Homo sapiens: one gene and its partner. The protein of the gene in region 2 purifies or fractionates together with the protein of the main gene of each other region. This does not show direct contact. Each region holds a gene or a part of one and is shown on either strand. Other genes may lie near its edges. The genes, in order: BMP7 and BMPR2.

Region 1 (4,680 bases), on a different chromosome or scaffold from region 2:
TTTCAGTGAGGGGCACAGTGATCAGAAGCTGGCCAGCAGGATAATGGGATGGAGAGATGAGTGGGGACCCATGGGGCCATTTCAAGTTAAATTTCAGTGGGGTCACCAGGAAGATTCCATGTGATAATGAGATTAACGTGCCCAGCACGTGGCGACACTCAGTAGGTGTTATTCCTGCTCTGCCAACAGCAACCATAGTGATAAGAGCTGTAGGGATTTTGTTCTTTTGCTTAGAATCCAAGGTTCAAGGACCTTGGTTATGTAGCTCCCTGTCATGAACATCATCTGAGCCTTTCCTGCCTACTGATCATCCACCCTGCCTTGAATGCTTCTAGTGACAGAGAGCTCACTACCAGGACTACTCCCTCCTTTCATTTAGTAATCTGCCTCCTTCTTTTCTTGTCCCTGTCCTGTGTGTTAAGTCCTGGAGAAAAATCTCATCTATCCCTTTCATTTGATTCTGCTCTTTGAGGGCAGGGGTTTTTGTTTCTTTGTTTGTTTTTTTAAGTGTTGGTTTTCCAAAGCCCTTGCTCCCCTCCTCAATTGTAAACTTCAAAGCCCTACTTGGGATTGAAGGTCCTTAGGCTGGAAACAGAAGAGTCCTCCCCAACCTGTTCCCTGGCCTGGATGTGCTGTGCTGTGCCAGTATCCCCTGGAAGGTGCCAGGCATGTCTCCCCGGCTGCCAGGGGACACATCTCTATCCTTCTCCAACCCCTGCCTTCATGGCCCATGGAACAGGAGTGCCATCGCCCTGTGTGCACCTACTTCCATCAGTATTTCACCAGAGATCTGCAGGATCAAAGTGAATTCTCCAGGGATTGTGAAATGATGCGATTGTGGTCATGTTTAAAAGGGGGCAACTGTCTTCTAGAGAGTCCTGATGAAATGCTTCCAGAGGAAATGAGCTGATGGCTGGAATTTGCTTTAAAATCATTCAAGGTGGAGCAGGTGGGGAAGGGTATGGATGTGTAAGAGTTTGAAATTGTCCATCATAAAATGTGTAAAAAGCATGCTGGCCTATGTCAGCAGTCACAGCCTGGAGGCTGTGAACAGAGTGCCAGTCACTGATGCTCTTGCCTGGCACCTACAGTTGCTGGAAACCCAGAAGTTTCACGTTGAAAACAACAGGACAGTGGAATCTCTGGCCTGTCTTGAACACGTGGCAGATCTGCTAACACTGATCTTGGTTGGCTGCCGTCAGCTTAGGTTGAGTGGCGGCCTCTTCCCTTAGTTTGCCTTAGTCCCCACTATTCCCTATTGTCTTACCTCGGTCTATTTTGCTTATCAGTGGCACTCACGTGGCACTCATAGGCATTTGAGTCTATGTGTCCCTGTCCCACATCCTCTGTAAGGTGCAGAGAAGTCCATGAGCAAGATGGAGCACTTCTAGTGGGTCCAAGTCAGGGACACTATTCAGCAATCTACAGTGCACAGGGCAGTTCCCCAACAGAGAATTACCTGGTCCTGAATGTCGGATCTGGCCCCTTCCTTCCCCACTGTATAATGTGAAAACCTCTATGCTTTGGTTCCCTTGTCTGCAAAACAGGGATAATCCCAGAACTGAGTTGTCCATGTAAAGTGCTTAGAACAGGGAGTGCTTGGCTTGGGGAGTGTCACCTGCAGTCATTCATTATGCCCAGACAGGATGTTTCTTTATAGAAACGTGGAGGCCAGTTAGAACGACTCACCGCTTCTCACCACTGCCCATGTTTTGGTGTGTGTTTCAGGTCCACTTCATCAACCCGGAAACGGTGCCCAAGCCCTGCTGTGCGCCCACGCAGCTCAATGCCATCTCCGTCCTCTACTTCGATGACAGCTCCAACGTCATCCTGAAGAAATACAGAAACATGGTGGTCCGGGCCTGTGGCTGCCACTAGCTCCTCCGAGAATTCAGACCCTTTGGGGCCAAGTTTTTCTGGATCCTCCATTGCTCGCCTTGGCCAGGAACCAGCAGACCAACTGCCTTTTGTGAGACCTTCCCCTCCCTATCCCCAACTTTAAAGGTGTGAGAGTATTAGGAAACATGAGCAGCATATGGCTTTTGATCAGTTTTTCAGTGGCAGCATCCAATGAACAAGATCCTACAAGCTGTGCAGGCAAAACCTAGCAGGAAAAAAAAACAACGCATAAAGAAAAATGGCCGGGCCAGGTCATTGGCTGGGAAGTCTCAGCCATGCACGGACTCGTTTCCAGAGGTAATTATGAGCGCCTACCAGCCAGGCCACCCAGCCGTGGGAGGAAGGGGGCGTGGCAAGGGGTGGGCACATTGGTGTCTGTGCGAAAGGAAAATTGACCCGGAAGTTCCTGTAATAAATGTCACAATAAAACGAATGAATGAAAATGGTTAGGACGTTACAGATATATTTTCCTAAACAATTTATCCCCATTTCTCGGTTTATCCTGATGCGTAAACAGAAGCTGTGTCAAGTGGAGGGCGGGGAGGTCCCTCTCCATTCCCTACAGTTTTCATCCTGAGGCTTGCAGAGGCCCAGTGTTTACCGAGGTTTGCCCAAATCCAAGATCTAGTGGGAGGGGAAAGAGCAAATGTCTGCTCCGAGGAGGGCGGTGTGTTGATCTTTGGAGGAAAAATATGTTCTGTTGTTCAGCTGGATTTGCCGTGGCAGAAATGAAACTAGGTGTGTGAAATACCCGCAGACATTTGGGATTGGCTTTTCACCTCGCCCCAGTGGTAGTAAATCCATGTGAAATTGCAGAGGGGACAAGGACAGCAAGTAGGATGGAACTTGCAACTCAACCCTGTTGTTAAGAAGCACCAATGGGCCGGGCACAGTAGCTCCCACCTGTAATCCCAGCACTTTGGGAGGCTGAGGTGGGCGGATCATTTGAGGTCAGGAGTTCGAGACCAGCCTGGCCAACATGGTGAAACCCCATCTCTACTAAAAATACAAAAATTAGCCGGGCATGGTGGCACGCACCTGTAATCCCAGCTACTCTGGAGGCTGAGGCAGGAGAATTGCTTGAACCCCAGAGGTGGAGGTTGCAGTGAGCCAAGATCGTCCCACTGCACTCCAGCTTGGGTGACAAAACAAGACTCCATCTCAAAAGAAAAAAAAAACAGCACCAATGAAGCCTAGTTCTCCACGGGAGTGGGGTGAGCAGGAGCACTGCACATCGCCCCAGTGGACCCTCTGGTCTTTGTCTGCAGTGGCATTCCAAGGCTGGGCCCTGGCAAGGGCACCCGTGGCTGTCTCTTCATTTGCAGACCCTGATCAGAAGTCTCTGCAAACAAATTTGCTCCTTGAATTAAGGGGGAGATGGCATAATAGGAGGTCTGATGGGTGCAGGATGTGCTGGACTTACATTGCAAATAGAAGCCTTGTTGAGGGTGACATCCTAACCAAGTGTCCCGATTTGGAGGTGGCATTTCTGACGTGGCTCTTGGTGTAAGCCTGCCTTGCCTTGGCTGGTGAGTCCCATAAATAGTATGCACTCAGCCTCCGGCCACAAACACAAGGCCTAGGGGAGGGCTAGACTGTCTGCAAACGTTTTCTGCATCTGTAAAGAAAACAAGGTGATCGAAAACTGTGGCCATGTGGAACCCGGTCTTGTGGGGGACTGTTTCTCCATCTTGACTCAGACAGTTCCTGGAAACACCGGGGCTCTGTTTTTATTTTCTTTGATGTTTTTCTTCTTTAGTAGCTTGGGCTGCAGCCTCCACTCTCTAGTCACTGGGGAGGAGTATTTTTTGTTATGTTTGGTTTCATTTGCTGGCAGAGCTGGGGCTTTTTGTGTGATCCCTCTTGGTGTGAGTTTTCTGACCCAACCAGCCTCTGGTTAGCATCATTTGTACATTTAAACCTGTAAATAGTTGTTACAAAGCAAAGAGATTATTTATTTCCATCCAAAGCTCTTTTGAACACCCCCCCCCCTTTAATCCCTCGTTCAGGACGATGAGCTTGCTTTCCTTCAACCTGTTTGTTTTCTTATTTAAGACTATTTATTAATGGTTGGACCAATGTACTCACAGCTGTTGCGTCGAGCAGTCCTTAGTGAAAATTCTGTATAAATAGACAAAATGAAAAGGGTTTGACCTTGCAATAAAAGGAGACGTTTGGTTCTGGCTCTTTGGCCTGTGTCTGTCTGTGTGTGTTGTGTTTTTCTCTCAGTTCTTGGACACTGAAGTTCTCTCACACTGCTAAGAGCTCCCTGCCTTCGTCTCCACCGTGAACGCTCTGTTTAGCATCCAGGCCTTGCGGGGAAGTGGCCGCTCGTCAATATTTGGTGCAGCTGTGTGGGGCTCCGGGCAGGAGAGATGGAACCAAGCAACACATGTGAATTTGGTAGGCTCGACTACAAAGGTCCTTGATTGAATTACAGTGCAGCTGTCAGCAGCTGTTTCAAAGAGGCAGGGGGTAAATTAGCTGTGTTTACTGCTAACATAGTTGAAAGATTTAGTCATCCCAATAAAATAGAGGCACCACAGAGAGAAAAAGGGCAGGAGGTGCACGCCCAAAACTTTAAAGCGGTGCCGGCCCCAGAGCTGACACTGTCCAGTGCAAATGATTGGGGCAGTTGCTGGAGCGCGACTGTGGACGTGGATGGCCCCCAGCAGGCCTGGCGAAGGCGGCCAGGGCCCAGTGTCTCGCCGAGCATGGAGCAGCACTTGGCTGCGTAGCGTGGAGCAGCAGTTTGGACGCCTTTCCTCTTTGAAGTGCACA
Region 2 (7,291 bases):
AGTACAAGTAAGAGAAGATAGTGGCTTTTAGATTAAGGTAGTAGCACAGTGGAGGTGGTAAGAAGCAATAAGATTCTAGATATATTTTGAAGGTAAAGCCAAGAGTTTTTGCTATCAGATTGGATAAGAATGTGAAAAAAAGAAAGAGAAGAGACAAAGATATCTCTAATTTGGGGCCTGAACAACTGGAAGGATAGAACTGACATTTGCTGAATAGGCTAAGACATAGGAGGAACAGGTCTGGTGAAGCAGCTTCAGAAGTTCAGTTTTGGACAGGTTAAGTTTGTGATGAATATCAGACATCCAAGTAGATACGACAGATACACAGTTGGCTACATGCAACAGAATTTCAAGGAAAGAAGTCTGAGATAGAAATAAATTTGAAACTTGTACGCCTTTAGATGCTATTTAAAGCCATAAAACTGGATGAGATCACCAAGAGGGTGGGTGCAGACAGAGAAAAGGTCTAAAGACTGAATCCTGAAACACAACATTTAGCCATCAGGGACATAAGGAGGAACTATCAAAGTTGCTGGTGAGGTAGGAGAAAAATCAAGAGAGAATAGTATCTTAAAAGCCAAATGAAGAAAGTACTTGAAGGATGAAAAAAAAGGATTAAATTGGCTCATGCTACAGATAGGTCAAAACAAGAACTTGGAAATAAATCAAACAACAAGCAGGACATACGCACAGAAGTATTAAATATGGCATTGTTTATTAGAGAAGAAAATCGGAAACAACCTAAACATCTCCCAATATGAATTAAGTAAATAACAAATACACTCAATGGAATATCACACAATTATGAAAAAATGATAGTTATTAAGATCACATATACATGACTATATTATTCTATGTAAAAAAAACAGATATAATTAATAGATATTATAAAATCACAACCATATAAAAATACATGCTTTTTTTTTTTTTTTTGCCAGGCGTGGTGGCTCACGCCTGTAATCCCAGCACTTTGGGAGGCTGAGGCGGGCAGATCACGAGGTCAGGAGTTCGAGACCAGCCTGGCCAACACAGTGAAACTCCGTGTCTACTAAAAATACAAAAACTAGCCGGACATGGTGGCGCACACCTGTAGTCCCAGCTACTCGGGCGGCTGAGGCAGGAGAATCGCTTGAACCCAGGAGGTGGAGGTTGTCGTGAGCCGAGATCACGCCACTGTACTCCCACCTGGGCAACAAAGCGAGACTCCGTCTCAAAAAAAAAAAAAAAAAAAAAAGCATCTTTTTTTTAATTAGAAGAAAACATACCAAAACAAAAAGTGTTAGGGTTGTGTGAAGATTAATATTTTTTCTCTTAATTTTTCAAATGAAAACAAAAAAAAAAGCTTGCCCTAAAAGGTTAGCCTGGTGTGTCTACTACAATTACATAGATTTGCTCACAGACTATTCTTATTTACAAAAGCAAAGACTGAACACAGATTAATAATAATAGAAAGTCTTAACTATTTCCTCATCTAAATGAAACAAAAAACTGAAGAATTTGGATTACTGGCCAAATATTTATACATCCCTTCACACTTATCATTAACACATTTTGTTCTAAATTTTCCTATTTTGCACTAAACTTACTGGGGCAGAATGAAAGTACATGATCATGTACATTTTTGACACCAATTATAAGGGCAAACTACTGTCTTGAAGGAGAAAGGGGAAGTGAGATCTGGTTTTAAGAAACTGAAATTTCTTGGCCAGGTGCGGTGGCTCACGTCTGTAATCCCAGCACTCTGGGAGGCTGAGGCAGGCAGATTACCTGAGGTCGGGAGTTCGAGACCAGCCTGACCAGCATGGAGAAACCCCGTCTCTACTACAAATACAAAATTAGCTGGGTGTGGTAGTGCATGCCTGTAATCCCAGCTACTCAGGAGGCTGAGGCACAAGAATCACTTGTACCCGGGAGGTGAAGGTTGCAGTGAGCAGAGATCTTGCCATTGAACTCCAGCCTGGGCAACAAGAGCAAAACTCCGTCGAAAGAAAGAAAGAAAGAAAGAAAAGAAAGAAAAGAAAGAAAAAGAAAGAAAGAAAGAAAGAAAGAAAGAAAGAAAGAAAGAGAAAGAAAGAAAGAAAGAAACTGAAATTTCTCAACCTCCATTTGCATCTAACCTTCCAGAAAGAGATGTGGATCAAATACCTAACTGTCCCAAATACCTAACTCCATCTAAAATTCTTAGGCCAATGCCTCTGGCACAATACTTTATCATGTCTCATAATTTTTCCACCAAGTCCACCGTCGACACATTTAAGACGTGAATGATTGCACACATTTTGCACTATATCTTGATAATTTGGGTAATGTATTTTAAACGTTACTGATGCACAAGGCAGGGTTAAGGTACAGTGTTGGGCATTGTGATTCTAGGCATGCATATAATCTTTCATATCAGTGTTTTTTTGTTTTGTTTTGTTTTTTGAGATGGAGTTTCACTCTTTTGCCAAGGCTGGAGTAAAGTGGCACAATCTTGGCTCACTGCAACCTCTGCCTACTGGGTTCAAGTGATTCTCCTGCCTCAGCCTCCCAAGTAGCTGGGATTATAGGCGCCCGCCACCACGCCCGGGTAATTTTTGTATTTTTAGTAGAGATGGGGTTTCACCATGTTGGCCAGGCTGGTCTCAAACTCCTAACGTCAGTTGATCCACCAGCCTCGGCCTCCCAAAGTGCTAGGATTACAGGTATGAGCCACCAGGCCCAGCCAATATTAGTGCTTTTGAAAATAGTAATTTTTTTTTTTTTGAGATGGAGTCTCGCCCTGTCACCCAGGCTGGAGTGCAGTGGTACGATCTCGGCTCACTGCAACCTCCGCCTCCCAGGTTCAAGTGATTCTCCTACCTCAGCTTCCTGAGTAGCTAGGATTACAGGCATGCACCACCACGCGTGGCTAATTTTGTTTTTTTCTTTTTTTTTTTTTTTTGACAGAGTTTCGCTCTTGTTGCCCAGGCTGGAGTGCAAAGGCACAACCTCGGCTCACCACAACCTCCGCTTCCCAGGTTCAAGCGATGCCTCAGCCTCCCGAGTAGCTGGGATTACAGGCATGTGCCACCACACCCGGCTAATTTTGTATTTTTAGTAGAGACAGGGTTTCACCACGTTGGCCGGGTTGGTCTCGAACTCCTGACTTCAGGTGATCAGCCCACCTTGGCCTCCCAAAGTGCTGGGATTACAAGCGTGAGCCATGGCAACTGGCCTAATTTTGTATTTTAGTAGAGACGGGGTTTCACCACGTTAGTCAGGCTGGTCTCAAACTCCTGACCTCAGGTTATCAGCCCGCCTTGGCTTCCCAAAGTGCTGGGATTATAGGTGTGAGCCACAGCTCCCAGCCAAATTTTTGTATTTTTTGTACAGCAGGGCTGGTCTCGAAATCCTGACCTCAAGTGATCCGCCTGCCTTGGCCTCCCCAAGTGCCAGGATTACAGAGTAAGCCACTTCGCCCAGGCCACACTGCAAATTTTTAAAAGGAAAAGATTTTGGGTAATTGCTTAATGCACAAATTAAGAAATGTTTGTTCCTAATGTTTACCAGATTAAGCAATAAAAGATATAGATTAAGTAGTAATTACCACAAAAAGTAGAAATAAAGTTATAGAACTTGAGAGTTAGAAAGAATCTTAGATCCAGTAGTTCTCAAAGGTACCTAAAATTTACTGGCTGATGAGGGCATCAAAGGCAGATTCCCAGGCTCGTTGTCCAGAGATTTGGATTCAGTAGGTCTAGTGGGGTACCCATGAATCTGTATTTCAAAATGATCAAGTACAACCCCATATTATTACAAGTAAGAAAACTATGTTAAGTAACCTATTTGCCCGGAATCATATAGAATCTAGGTCTCATTAACTCCCAACAGTGGTCTTCCCACTATACCTCTTAAACTACATACTTTATAGTTGAAGGAACTAGGACAAAGAAAAAGTTATTGGTGTGTTATTTGAGTCAATAAACAACCCTAGAATATTCCTGGTTGAAATTCCTATTTATTATTCATTCACTAAGTATTTCTTAAATGTCTACTAAATTATAAAACTAATCAGACATGAATACTGTCCTCTGGAAGCAATTATCAGTAGGAAGGACAAGGCAAATACATAAAACTGATACCTGGTCAGGTGCGGTAGCTCACACCTGTAATCCCAACACTTTGGGAGGCCAAGGTGGGTGGATCAGCTGAGGTAAGGAGTTTGAGACCAGCCTGGCCAACATGGTGAAACCCCATCTCTACTAAAAATAAAAAAATTTCGGGTGTGGTGGCTCACACCTGTAATCCCAGCACTTTGGGAGGCCAGGGCAGGTGGATCACAAGATCAGGAGTTCGAGACCGGCCTGGCTAGCATAGTGAAACCCCATCTCTACTAAAAATACAAAAATTAACCAGGCATGATGGTGCACACCTATAATCCCAGCTACTCGGGAGGCTGAGGCAGGAGAATGGCTTGAACCTGGGAGGTGGAGGTTGTAATGAGTCGAGATCGTGCCACTCCACTCCAGGCTGTGTGACAGAGCAAGACTCCATCTCAAAAAAAAAAAAAAAAAAACAAAAACAAAAACTGATATCCAGCAGCACAGCAATCTATGAGTAGGTGCCAAAATAAGTGGTGTGGCCAATTATAAAATTAACTGATTCACACAGATTCCACTCAGTATTTTTTTAATGGTTAGAATTTACCCATTAGAGATCAATATTCAATTTCTTCTCTTTTTGTTAAAAAAAAAACTGGCCTTTAATGAAGGAAAGGTTTTGTCTTGTGTGAACAGTTATCTCTCACCTCACTACTCATCCACATCAATACCACTACTATCACATCATCCCACATGCCAGAATAGCTTTTGTAGAGACCAAAGTTTATATCATTTTAATGCAAAAAACTAATTAAGAGGTTGGCCCTCTTCAAAGGGTAAGAAAAGCCTCCCTTCTGGACCATCTTACTGGTTATATGTGGTCTACTGAGAATTTCAATTCTTCGTTCTTCTGCAATAGTACTATATATCCAAATATTACATTAGCCTCATCACAGGCAAAGTGTACTTTGATACCTCTTGTTTCTGAGCTTAGCCTAGCCATATGACTCGGTCAGCCAATGGGATGTTAGGAGAGCAGAGTCTGGAAATGTGCTGGTAGGGTTGGGCTTGGCCTCTTGCACTTCTGCCAATGCCATGACACAAGCCTCCCCCAGATAGATGTTACTTCTCCCTCTAGCCTGGACCCCAGAAAGAGACACATGGAGCAGAATAAATGCCTATTGTTGCATGCCACTAAGATTTTGTGGTTGCCAATAATTACACAGCAAAATGTCACTGAATCACCATATTTAAGAAATCCAGCCCAGGCGTGGTGGCTCATGCCTATAATCCCAGCACTTTCGGAGGCAGAGGCAGGCAGATCACGAGGTCAGGAGTTTGAGATCAGCCTGGCCAATATGGTAAAACCACGTCTCTACTAAAAATACAAAAATTAGCCGGGTGTGGTGGTGCACACCTGTAGTCCCAGCTACTTGGGAGGCTGAGGCAGAAGAATCACTTGAACCCGGGAGGCAGAGGTTGCAGTGAGCTGAGATGGCGCCACTGCACTCCAGTCTGGGTGACCGAGCCAGACTCTGTCTCAAAAAAAAAAAAAAAAAAAAAAAAAAAGAAAGAAAGAAATCCAGGGCCAGGGCCAGGGCCAGGGCCAGGGCCAGGGCCAGGCACAGTGGCCCACACCTATAATCCCAGCATTTTGGGAGGCCGAGGCGGGCAGATCACCTGAGATCAGGAGTTCAAGACCAGCCTGACCAACATGGAGAAACCCTGTCTCTACTAACAATACAAAATTAGCCAGGAGTGGTGGCACATGCCTGTAATCCCAGCTACCCGAGAGGCTGAGGCAGAATTGCTTGAACCCGGGAGGTGGAGGTTGCAGTGAGCCGAGATCACACCATTGCACTCCAGCCTGGGCAACAAGAGCAAAACTCAAAAAAAAAAAAAAAAAGAAAGAAATCCAAACAATCAGGACTGATGATATAAAGCAGTGCTTCTCAAGCACCTGCTTGAGTGAGACTTTGCGGGGGTTCTCCCAGAGAGATTCATTCAGTACATCTGGACTATAGGGCCAAAAATATGCATTTTTATCAAGAACCCCAGGTAATTCTGTTGCAGTACCCACACTTTGAGAAAAACTAAAATGAAGATTACTAAACTTCAGTTACTCAGTAATATTCACTAACATTAGATTAATCTTACTTTATATAATGTGTGTGTTCCTCAAGAGATGTATGTAAAATTGCAATCTAATCAAGTGAATTATTTAAAACGCATTACAGAAGTTGACCTTTAAATAATAGCTGTGTTGTATTCTTTTATTAAGAATTCATTCATAAACCAAGCCAGCACATCTTATTTTTCATAAGTTGTTTTTTTTTTTGGGGGGGGCATAGAAAATGTTCTAAGAATTAGGCGGGGTGTGGTGGCTCATGCCTGTAATCCCAGCACTTTGGGAGGCCGAGGCAGGTGGATCACGAGGTCAGGAGTTCGAAACCACCCTGCCAAAATGGTGAAACCCCGTCTCCACTAAAAATACAAAAAATAAAAATAAATTAGCTGGGCATGGTGGTGGGCTCCCGTAATCTCAGCTAGTCTGGAGGCTGAGGCAGGAGAACCACTTGCGCCTGGGAGGCGGAAGTTGTGGTGAGCCAGGGTCGTGCCACTGCACTCCAGCCTGGGCGACAGAGTGATACTCTGTCTGAACAAAAAAGAAAGAAAGAAAGAAAGAAAGAAAGAAAATGTTCTAAGAATTAAGGAGTCCAAGAACTCAATAAGTGAGAAAGAGGGAATCAAAAGAAATGATTTATCCATGACCCCGAAAAAGGATGTGCTATCAATCAGTCTTCTAGGATTTATTTTCCTGTTCAGCTGCACCATTTGCGCCTGTCGAGTTAACATCACTGCATCTGTGTAACCCAAATCCACACAGGCCCTCTCTAATCAGCTTGCACTTAATGAAGCTGCACTAGCCACTTCAATATTAGGCCAAGCAAAGTTTTACATGTTCAGAACTACGACATTTGCATAACCACTGCTGCACTAACACCTTGTAAGTGTCCCTGCTTCTTTACAAAGGTTGATCTGGTGAAGGCTAATTACTCCATCTCATATATCCAATAAGATGAGAAGTTGTTGCTGCTAGTGCTGCTGTTACCATTAATGTGGTATGTGAGGGCGCACACTATAATCCTGGCTCCATAATTTACTGACTGTGTGGTGAGTTATTCAAATTCTCTGTACTTTACTCTCCCTCTATGGAAAAGGGGAATGAT

What was found.
Region 1: the proteins of BMPR2 (region 2) and BMP7 purify together in Homo sapiens (affinity purification with western blotting; 2 studies listed by BioGRID). This does not show direct contact.

Annotation. Positions count from the first base shown.
Region 1 is NC_000020.11:57,168,157-57,172,836, reverse strand, and holds the end of BMP7 (bone morphogenetic protein 7 preproprotein), read left to right. Parts: intron 1-1,728; coding exon 1,729-1,878; 3' UTR 1,879-4,084; downstream 4,085-4,680. UniProt on the Homo sapiens protein: Growth factor of the TGF-beta superfamily that plays important role in various biological processes, including embryogenesis, hematopoiesis, neurogenesis and skeletal morphogenesis.
Region 2 is NC_000002.12:202,379,305-202,386,595, reverse strand, and holds part of BMPR2 (bone morphogenetic protein receptor type-2 precursor), read right to left. Parts: intron 1-7,291. UniProt on the Homo sapiens protein: On ligand binding, forms a receptor complex consisting of two type II and two type I transmembrane serine/threonine kinases.